Linked DNA regions of Homo sapiens: region 1 is linked to region 2. Evidence: fine-mapped expression QTL. A gene starts in region 2. The other region holds a variant in brackets. All regions are shown on one strand. Distances are between the middles of the regions.

Region 1 (5,384 bases), 110 kb after region 2:
TTTCCTTTTTTTTCCCTATAGATTTTGTTTCTAACTAAAGGCATCCAAATTCTCTACCCCAAACCACAACATTGTCCAGAGCTTCCACAACTCAGAAAAAAAAAAAAAAAAAAAGCACTGCTATGTTTATCCTGTTGGCAGCCCCCTCTGCCAGTTTCCATCAAAGACCAGCCTGAAATAACACGCTTGTCTGGGGGTGGGGACATGGCTGAGGTGGCTGGCAGCACCCTCTGCTGTGGTGGGGCCAGGGTGGCCTTGATGGGAATTCTGAGTGTTCACACCTTGGGGCCCTGCAGAGGCTCCTTCTCTGTAAAACAAGAAAGAGCTGGCACATTTGTACAGAGAAACACTGGACCAGTGTGGACCAGGGAGCCAGCTCAGGGCTAGTCCCACACACTCAGTTCAGCTCTCCCCAGCAGCATCTAAAGGCACCCCAGGCCAGGCGTGGTGCCTCATGCCTGTAATGTCAGCACTTTGGGAGGCCGAGGTGGGTGGATCACCTGAGGTCAGGAGTTCAAGACCAGCCTGACCAATATGGTGAAACCCCATCTCTACTAAAAATAAAAAAATTAGCCGGGCATGGTGGCATGCTCCTGTAGTCCCAGCTACTCGGGAGGTTGAGGCAGGAGAATTGCTTGAACCCAGGAGGTGGAGGTTGCAGTGGGCCAAGATCACGCCACTGCACTCCAGCCTGGGCAACAGAGTGACACCCTGTCTCAGGAAAAGAAAAAAAAAAGAATAAATAAATAGAGGCACCCCAGTCAGAAAACCACAGCTAAGATCTTGGGTCTGGAGGAAATGTCCTCAACTTCCTAAGAAGAAGCCTGGCCTCAGTATCTAGATAGTTTCAGGCTACTGTGTACAGGCTTGAACTGATTTTTAAAAAGCAAAAGACAAAATTTTATTTCATCCCAGCTCTGGAGCAAGGTTGTGAGAGCCACTTATGTTTGTAAGCTGCTTATAGTTTGCAAAGTGTGTTCCTGGTATATTGTATTTTTCCCCTGAATTCAACACATACATATTTTAAGTACTCTCTCCGAGGAAGGACCAGGAGTTGGTCTAATTTCAGCCCATTCTAGGACTTCCTAGCTATTTAACGAAGGCAGGGGCGTCTCCTGCTGCCTCCTTATACCCAGACAGGCTTACCCCCTCATGCTCTTCATCCATATCAAGTTGCCTTTCATCCTCCAGTGACACCACATCACTGTCTGCCCTGCAATCTGTGATGTTCAGACAGGCTCTGTGTTTTCTTCTGAGTAACTGTGTGACTCTGCAGCTCACACACTGACATCTCGAAACAGAGAGAAGTGGAGCTTTTAAACATGCACAAGGCCAAGTCAGACCCATGCAGAACAGATGACCTTGCATCCACCCTCTGAGCGCTCCAGTACACTGCATGTGCCCCTGCCGGGTTGCCCCCACTAGGATACATGTTTCCCTGTTTTTATTTTTTGTTTGTTTGATTGTGGTAAAACTTACATAACATTTACCATTTTAACTGTTTTCAAGTGTACAGTTCAGTGGCATTAAATGCATCACATTGCTGTTCAACCACCTCTGCCATCCATCCCAGAATTTCTCCATCATCCCAAACTGAAACTGTCCCCATTAATAACTCCTCATCCCCCTCTACTCACCAGCTTCTAGGAACCACCACTCTGCTTTCTGTTTCTTTTTTTTAAAAAAATATTTTATTTTAAGTTCTGGGATACATGTGCAGGATGTGCAGGTTCGTTATACAGGTAAACATGTGCCATGGTGCTTTGCTGCACCTGTCAACCCATCACCTAGGTATTAGGCCCCGCATGCATTAGCTATTTATCCTGATGCTCTCCCTCCCGTGCCCCACTGACAGGCCTCGTTGTGTGTTCTCTTCCCTGTGTCCATGTGTTCTCATTGTTCAACTCCCACTTATGAGTGAGAACATGTGGTGTTTGGTTTTCTGTTCCTGTGTTAGTTTGCTGAGGATAATGGCTTCCAGCTTCATCCATATCCCTGCAAAAGACATGGTCTCATTCCTTTTTATGGCTGCATAGTATTCCATGGCGTATATGTGCCACATTTTCTTTATCTAGTTTATCATTGATGGGCATTTGGGTTGATTCCATGTCTTTGCTATTGTGAATAGTGCTGCAATGAACATACACGTGTATGTATCTTTACAATAGAATGGTTTTATTTCTATACATTTGCCTATTCTAAGTGCCTCATTGTAGCGAAATCAATATGGGGTTTATCTTTTTGTGCCTGGCTTATTATTTCAGTTAGAATAATGTCCTCCAGGTTCATCCATGTTGTAGCATGC[A/G]TCAGAATTTCCTTCCTGTATAAGGCTGAATAATATTCCATTGGATGTACAACCACATTTTGCGCATCCATTTATTTGTGGATGGACATTTGGGTTGTTTCTGCTTTTGGCTGTTGTGAATAGTGAGGTTATGAACATGGGTGTGTAAGGACCTGTTTGAGTCCCTGCTTTCAAAGGGTGCATGTTTCCTAAGAGTCATTTCATCATAAACAGCACATGGCCTCTCATAGACCCAGTGCCCTATAAATGCAAGGGGACTTCAAAAAGTTTATGAGAAAATTGAATTTTTATATATATATATATATATATATATATATATATATATATATATACACACTTTATTTTTCAACATAAACTCCATCAACATCAAGACACTTTTGTAAATGGTGATACCAGCCATTTAATCAGCCTAAAGAACTGAAGATCCCAAGAGCTTAACCATGTCAGTGCAGTCTTTTACCTTATTAAATGAAGAAAAATGGATGCTCTTTACATATGTTTTAAGATTAGGAAAGAAAAAGAAGTCAGAAGGAGCCCAATCGTGGCTGTAAGGTGGATGCCTAATGATTTCCATCAAAGCTGTCAGAAAATTGCTCTTGTTTGATGAGAGGAATGAGCAGGAGCCCTGCCATGGTGGCAAAGGACTCTCTGGGAAGCTTTCCCGGGTGTTTTTCTGCCAAAGTTTTGTCTAACTTTCTCAACACTCTCATAATCAGCAGATGTTATTGTTCTTTGGCCCTCTAGAAAGTCAACAAGCAAAATGCCTTGAGCAACCCGCAGAACAGTTGCCATGACCTTTCCTCTTGACCCGTCCACTGTTGCTGTGACTGGTCCACTTCCACCTCTTGGTAGGTGTTGTTTTGATCATGCTTTGTCTTCAGGATCATACTGGTAAGGTCATGTTTCATATCCTGTTACGATTCTTCAAAGAAATGCTTCAGGATCTTGATCGCACTTGTTTAAAATGTTCATTGAAAACTCTGTTCTTGTCTGCTGATCACAATGGTTTTGACACCATGGAGTGGAGTGTGCTCAATTTTAATTTTTCTCAGAGTTGTATTAGCTGAGCCAGTGGAGATGTCTATGATGTTGGCTCTTGTTTCTGCTGTTAATCATTGGTCCTCTTCAACGAGGGCCCAAACGAGATGAATTTTTTTCCTCACAAACTGACGTGGATGGTCTCCTGCTGCAGGCTTCATCCTCAACATCGTTTCATCCCTTCTCAACACGAGTTATTCATTTGTTAACTGCTGATTTCCTTGGGACACTGTCCTCATAAACTTTTGTTAAAGCATTGATAATATCACCATTCTTTTACCCAAACCTCACAATAAATTTGATGTTTGTTCTTACTTCAATTTTAGCAAAATTCATGTTGTTCTCAAAGGGATTTTTTTTTCTTTTTTTTTAAAGACTGAATTATCTTTCTATTTGAGGTTGTATAATAAAATTGTTGTCACACAAAGGAGCAATCAAAGAACATACAGAAAAACATCATTTTTTATGGCTGCATAGTATTCCATGGTGTATATGTGCCACATTTTCTTAATCCAGTCTATCATTGTTGGACATTTGGGTTGGTTCCAAGTCTTTGCTATTGTGAATAGTGCCGCAATAAACATACGTGTGCATGTGTCTTTATGGCAGCATGATTTATAGTCCTTTGGGTATATAGCCAGTAATGGGATGGCTGGGTCAAATGGTATTTCTAGTTCTAGATCCCTGAGGAATCGCCACACTGACTTCCACAATGGTTCAACTAGTTTACAGTCCCACCAACAGTGTAAAAGTGTTCCTATTCCTCCACATCCTCTCCAGCACCTGTTGTTTCCTGACTTTTTAATGATTGCCATTCTAACTGGTGTGAGATGATATCTCATTGTGGTTTTGATTTGCATTTCTCTGATGGCCAGTGATGGTGAGCATTTTTTCATGTGTTTTTTGGCTGCATAAATGTCTTCTTTTGAGAAGTGTCTGTTCATGTCATTTGCCCACTTTTTGATGGGGTTGTTTGTTTTTTTCTTGTAAATTTGTTTGAGTTCATTGTAGATTCTGGATATTAGCCCTTTGTCAGATGAGTCGGTTGCAAAAATTTTCTCCCATTTTGTAGGTTGCCTGTTCACTCTGATGGTAGTTTCTTTTGCTGTGCAGAAGCTCTTTAGTTTAATTAGATCCCATTTGTCAATTTTGGCTTTTGTTGCCATTGCTTTTGGTGTTTTAGCCATGAAGTCCTTGCCCATGCCTAAGTCCTGAATGGTAATGCCTAGATTTTCTTCTAGGGTTTTTATGGTTTTAGGTCTAACATTTAAGTCTTTAATCCATCTTGAATTAATTTTTGTATAAGGTATAAGGAAGGGATCCAGTTTCAGCTTTCTGCATATGGCTAACCAGTTTTCCCAGCACCATTTATTAAATAGGGAATCGTTTTCCCATTGCTTGTTTTTCTCAGGTTTGTCAAAGATCAGATAGTTGTAGATATGTGGCATTATTTCTGAGGGCTCTGTTCTGTTCCATTGATCTATATCTCTGTTTTGGTACCAGTACCATGCTGTTTTGGTTACTGTAGCCTTGTAGTATAGTTTGAAGTCAGGTAGCGTGATGCCTCCAGCTTTGTTCTTTTGGCTTAGGATTGACTTGGCAATGCAGGCTCTTTTTTGGTGCTATATGAACTTAAAAGTAGCTTTTTCCAATTCTGTGAAGAAAGTCATTGGTAGCTTGATGGGGATGTCATTGAATCTATAAATCACCTTGGGCAGTGTGGCCATTTTCATGATATTGATTCTTCCTACCCATGAGCATGGAATGTTCTTCCATTTGTTTGTATCCTCTTTTATTTCATTGAGCAGTGGTTTTCAAACTGATGTCTGATCCTTCTTAGTGTCTCAAACTAGATGCTGTTCAAAAATGTTATAATGAGTTATTATGACTTTATTATGATGCAAAAAATTTGAAATGCATCATAGTTTTTTCATCATAAGCATTTTCTACGAGCTTTGTGAAAACCCCTCATGTGCCCGGGCTGCTGTCATTGCCATTCCTCGCCTTTCAGGAGCACGAAGTCCCACACTGTGGCAATGAA
Region 2 (5,384 bases):
ACTTGGAAATCTGCTAAACACCTTAGAAGAGGGGTGTTTCGTTTTGCTTGATGGTCTTAGTTTAGGGATATATTTGCTGTGTGCAAGGTCCATTACAAAACCATGCTGTACTCTTCCATCTCTGACCCAGGTTCTAACAAACAATTGGATAATGAAAGAGGAAAAGCCCCGGCCTGCCAGGTGATAGCAGAATGCACTTGTTGGAGAAAATCTGGATTTCTAAGATTCTTTCAGTGGCAACTGGTAGAATACAGGATTAGTTGAGTAGGCTCTCCATATAGCTTAGTGTCCACAGGAATCTGGATCAACTTTAGAATGGTTTGAACACCCTCTTCTTATGAGGTAAACAAAAAATAGAATTGGATTGTATTATTCTTCCAATTCAGTACAAAGTAAGACCTGATAGAGCCAAGGTATGGACAAAGAAGCCTGTGAAGGATTTTCAAATGGTCCTAAGCTTGTGAATGAGTGAGCAGGCAGCAGAGCTAAGAAAACCATTTGGAAGGCCTTTGCCAATGTAGTCCAGAAGAGCTGAAAGGCCAAGTCTTATCCGGGTCACTGGCTCTGTCTCCCATGAGGGCTGAGTATATTCCCTTGTTCCTGTGTTCATGCAGCAAAGGTTTTACCAGGATGATCAGTTAGATTATATGGGAAGCTGAAAAGTACCAGCAGTGCACACAGCTGTAAAATCAGCACAATGTTACCTGTAGCAGAAAAGTACAAGAAAAGCACTTTCTAGCCTCAAATCTTTGGCACAACCCCAGTTTGGTAAAGACGAAGCAAGTCAAGGGTGGCAGGCTGAATTTCTGCTCTGTTTTGCAATGAGAGTTGGATATTTAGCAATATACAACGACCAAAGCAGGAGTTGCCTCCTCCAAGGGTGGCTGACACATCTAAGGGGTCCCTTCTGCTTTTCACCAACTGGGAGAGTAAATTGAGACCAGCAGGTTGAGGTGGGAGGTTACCAAGGATACCAAATGGCCCTGCCACATCTCTAGCTGCTCTTAGTACAGCCATGTCAAGACGCCATTTTACATGTGTCACCTTCACTTGACAAATGAAATTCAGAGAGGTTGTGCTGCTCCAGGACCCAAGGTTGTTGCCCAGCCAGAGCGGGTCACAGATCCACTTTCAGAACCAGTGCTCCTCTTCAGACATCCTCCCTCAGTCTGCCAAACACTGCCCCAGGCTCCAGGGCTGAGTCAACAGTCTGCAGTCAGAGTCCAAGTTCCCAGTTCAGACATTTGGTGCCCCACAGAACCTTGTACGGGTCCCTGGTCTTCTTTGAGCCTGAATTTACTAATTTGTAAAATGAGGCCTAGGACATTATGTGGATGGGACGTGAGGCTCGTTTGCTCATGTATAAAATTGGTTTCCAAACTCTGGTCTGGAAGCCTCACTTGGTTCTAGTTTGCATTCCTGGGCTGCAGGAGTCCATCTGACCCCAGTTCTAGTCCTCACTTCTTGTCCTTGGCATCATAGCCAAGTACCTTTGTTGCCAACTCACTATCGGGTCCTCAGGCCCTTCCACCAACCCAAATTATAGATGGGGCTGCTTTCTCCAGCCTGGCTGCCTTGATGGTCAGTCCAGTCCCTGCAGGGCCCTGGTCCACAGATGAGTCTCCTAGCTGGAGGATCCCATGGGGTCCAGAGACCTCTGGAAGTGCCTGGGGTTCAGAGATGTCACAGAGCCTTTGCACCCACTGGCCTGGGGTGCCTGAAGAGGATGGTCCCTCTGGGGAATGCCCTGGGGCTCACACTAGTGGGCTGCACCCTCTTTCCATGCCACCCACACCTCCTCACTCCCTTAGAGGGAAGGAGATGAGGGCCCTGTCTCCTCCTCCTCCTACAGGGACCCACTCCCAACCAGGGCCCACCTGCTAGCTGCTGCTACCCCTCACTGGAACTCCACAAAGACCTCTCCTGATAGACACACACAGAATAGACCTAACATGTGCTTTTCTTGCTTGGAGATGGGTTAGGCTCAGACCCTAAGTTTAGAACAGTGGCAAAGAGACCAGGCATTGGCTCAGAGTGACAGGGCTCTGTGGTTGTGTGACATGGGTCTCTTTCATGTGGCTGCTTCTGCTTCCTTATGTATAGTAATAATAGTAGTGTTCACTGACACCCGTGAATCGGGTGCTGGGGCAATGCGTTAATGGGAATGGTGTAACTTGGTCTTCCTAAACACCCCAGAAGGGGTGGGCCCATTTCCCCATTTTACAGGTGCAGGAAACTGAGGCACATGGAGATTACAGAACTGTCCCAGGCCTGACCGCGGCGGGGTTCAGTAGCATCTGGAAAATCACTTTAGCCCAGGCCTGGCTGAGGCACTGTAAATGGGCACTTTTGTTAATAGTTTCCACATATTCTGGGCTGGTCTGTGTGGACCCTCTCAGTTTTCCAAGGGTTAGCACCTCGGACCCCGCCCTCCATTTCAGGGCAGCAGAAGGGGCTTCTCCCCCCTCAGCTGCTTGTTGGCTCCCGAGGGTCCTGTGGAGTGAGCGCAGGAGGCCCACGACCAGCAGGTGAGTCTCAGGCCAGAGGTTCCCTGGACGCGCCCCCACCCCCTGGCTCCCAGATCCCGCCTTCCCTTAGGAATAAGTGCATCTGTGGGCAGAGGACCGCCGGTCGCACTGCAGCTGTGTGTTCTGTGAGTCACCAGCGATCACCTTGCAGAAACTCAGTTTTCTCATCTGGGAAATGGGGCTGTTGAAAGGAGACGCCACAGATCCTGGAGCGAACCGATCGCGCGGCGGCTCCCGCGCCCGGTGCGGGCCTCGGGACCCAGCAGCCCCGGCCCCGCGTGGCAGGCGGCCCAAGGGGCGGGCCGGGGGCGGGCGCGAGCGCGGGCCCGGGGCGGGCTGGCGGCGGCCGGGCCAGGCGGCGGCGCTCTCCCGCGTCACAGCGCCGGGCGGCGGCGGGGAGATGCGGCTGCTGGCACTGGCGGCGGCCGCGCTGCTGGCGCGGGCTCCGGCTCCGGGTAAGCGCGGCGGGGCCAGGCGGGAGCGGGAAGGGTGGGGGCCGGGCGGCCGCGCCGGGGAGGCCGGGGCTCCGGGCCTGGTGGGGAGGCCCTGCCACCTCCGGGCGCGGGCGGGGGGCGGCGCTGTCACTGTCGCCAGCGCGCTCCGGTGGGCTCGCCGAGGGTCTGGCGGGCGCAGCGGCGCCTCCCCAAGGTTCAGAGGACGCCTCCCGTGAGCGCGGTCCCCGTCCCGACCTCGCCTGGGGCTGGGTACTCTCGCAGCAGCCGAGATCTTCCCAGCGGCAGGCCCCGAGGGGAGATGCAGCAGGAGCGCAGCCCAAGTTGGTGGTTCGCTTTCCTTTTTTCCACGGCAGTCAGGACACACAGCTCTTGGCAGATTCCTCGGAGCAGCAACTTCCCTTTCACTCTCTTCGGAGAGTTACTCCGAAGACAAGTCAGGAGCGGCTGGATCTGCCTTGGCCAGGAGGTGGGGAACGGGGACTTGATCGTGGGCCTTTTGAGGTGACCAGGCCTGGTGAGAGGGGCATCCACGGCTGGATGCAGCGACGCCTCTCCACCAGCACCCTGCTTTGAGGACAACTTCTTGGTCCACACTAATGGCTTTCATTCGGGTTTTACTGCTCCCACTTGTAAGTGTCTTAAGAATTTTCCCTCTTTATTCCCCAGAACTCTGTCTGGCTGCCTCAGGGCAGCAGGGGCCGTACTGGCTGGAATAATAGTAATAATACAGGTATCGATGGTCACTTTCCCTGGGTGCCTATCTGGGCCTATCTCATTTAATTACAACACTTCCAAGTAATAATGACTACAACACGTTTATATATCCAAGTATTAAAAAAAAAAAACATGAACTTGGTTAATCTCACCAATAACCTCTGAAGGAGGTGCTATTATTATCCCTATTTTATAGATGAGGAAACTGAGGCTCAGGCCCATGAACGGACTTGCCTTAATTCAGTAGGCTTGTAAGTGGTGGAGCTGGGATTTGAACCCAGTTAGCCTGGCTCTGGGCTCTGTCAATAACCACTAAACTGTGTTGCCATTGTTTTGAAAATTAGGAAACTGATGCTCAGAAGTCATTTTCCAAGAGTGATCTGGCTACCAAGTGTAGAGCTGGCATTTGAGCCAGCATTAATCCATAGATCCCAGTCTGAGGAGGAGGCACTTGGATAACAGTGGGAAGAAATCCATCTACTGTCCCCCAGCTATGAGTGCAGCCAGGTTCCCAGTGAACCTGAAATCCTTGCTGCGGGAAATGTACCTTTTCCCAGTTGTCACTGTCTCGGCTGGAAAAATGATGAGAAGTTTGCCTTGGACTGGTGGGCAGGGCCAGTTCTCGTGGTCTCTGTGGAGTAGCCAGCAGCCAGTGGTCCTTCCTCTCCCAGGCTCCATGACCACCTTCTAATTGCAGGAGCTGTCAGAGTGGGTGTCCCAGAGATTGTCTTTTGCTGGGGATCAAGGGCATTCTCACATTTCCAGAGCCCTCGGGAGCCTTGAGAGCTGGAATTCAGGAGCCTTTAGAGTCTGCCCTGGCTGTGCCCATGGTCAGCCCTGGAGGATGATAAGAGCTCCTGCTTGTGGGACACTCACTGTGTGCCACCCACTTTTCTAAGTGCCTCATTCATGACTCCTCACCACGATCCTGCTGGGAGGGGCTGGCAGACCCATTTTATACATAAGTACAGCTTCTTAACTGCTGTACTTTTCTGCCTCTCCATTTTGGGACTGACCAGGACCCTAGTGGTCACCTGGTCCCATGTCTCATTTTACAGGAAAGAAAACTGACAGACAATATATTTACGATAGCAAATCTGTAGGCTTGAGAGGTGGCTGAGCTGTCTTTGAAGCAAGATGGCCTAGGTTCGAATTCCAGCTCTGCCACTTACTATGTGAGCTTGAACAAGGGCTTAGCCTCTCTGTACCTCAGTCCTCTTGTCTATAAAATGGGAATAAACAGAGTATCAGGATAAATTGAGAAAATACATCTAAAGGGCATAGAGTTTGTACCCGGCAGGTATTAGCCTCTATCATTGGGCAAGGTGATATTTTTATCCTGGATGGAGCTATTTTCAGGTGATAGGCTAATGTGAGTGAATCAGTCCATGGGCTAGGTCTGGCATCACCTCTGCTTAGTGCTCAGTAAATACTGGCTCCTGGTGCCAAAGACTGTTAAGTAATATAACTATTTCTTTCAGAGATTTAGCTGTATGAATTCAGACTATTCTTTTAATAAGAAAGCTCACTGCTGCTGATCAGTACTGACAGTTTGCATTCCTTATAAACTTAGAGGCTCTGGTCTCCCTGAAGTGAGCAGGTGCAGTTTCTTCAGGCAGAGAGGAAGTGGGAGGCACACAGCTACGAGCACATCCCTGGCCTGCTCAGAACCGAGGGACTGTGCCCA

What was found. PIP is the estimated chance that this variant, and not a neighbour inherited with it, causes the effect.
Region 1: its variant is the best candidate, but not a certain one, in a credible set for the expression of VSTM4 in left ventricle (GTEx, PIP 0.63).

What each region holds. Positions count from the first base shown.
Region 1 is chr10:49,003,143-49,008,526 of GRCh38, reverse strand. No RefSeq gene overlaps it. Among named protein-coding and RNA genes, the nearest start is that of MIR4294, 20 kb to the right of the region's middle. The variant A/G (reference allele first, on the strand shown) is at 2,306.
Region 2 is chr10:49,113,030-49,118,413 of GRCh38, reverse strand. VSTM4 (V-set and transmembrane domain containing 4) reads left to right here and starts at 2,892. Exons shown (of 8, transcript NM_001031746.5): 1 at 2,892-2,983. The coding sequence starts at 2,929.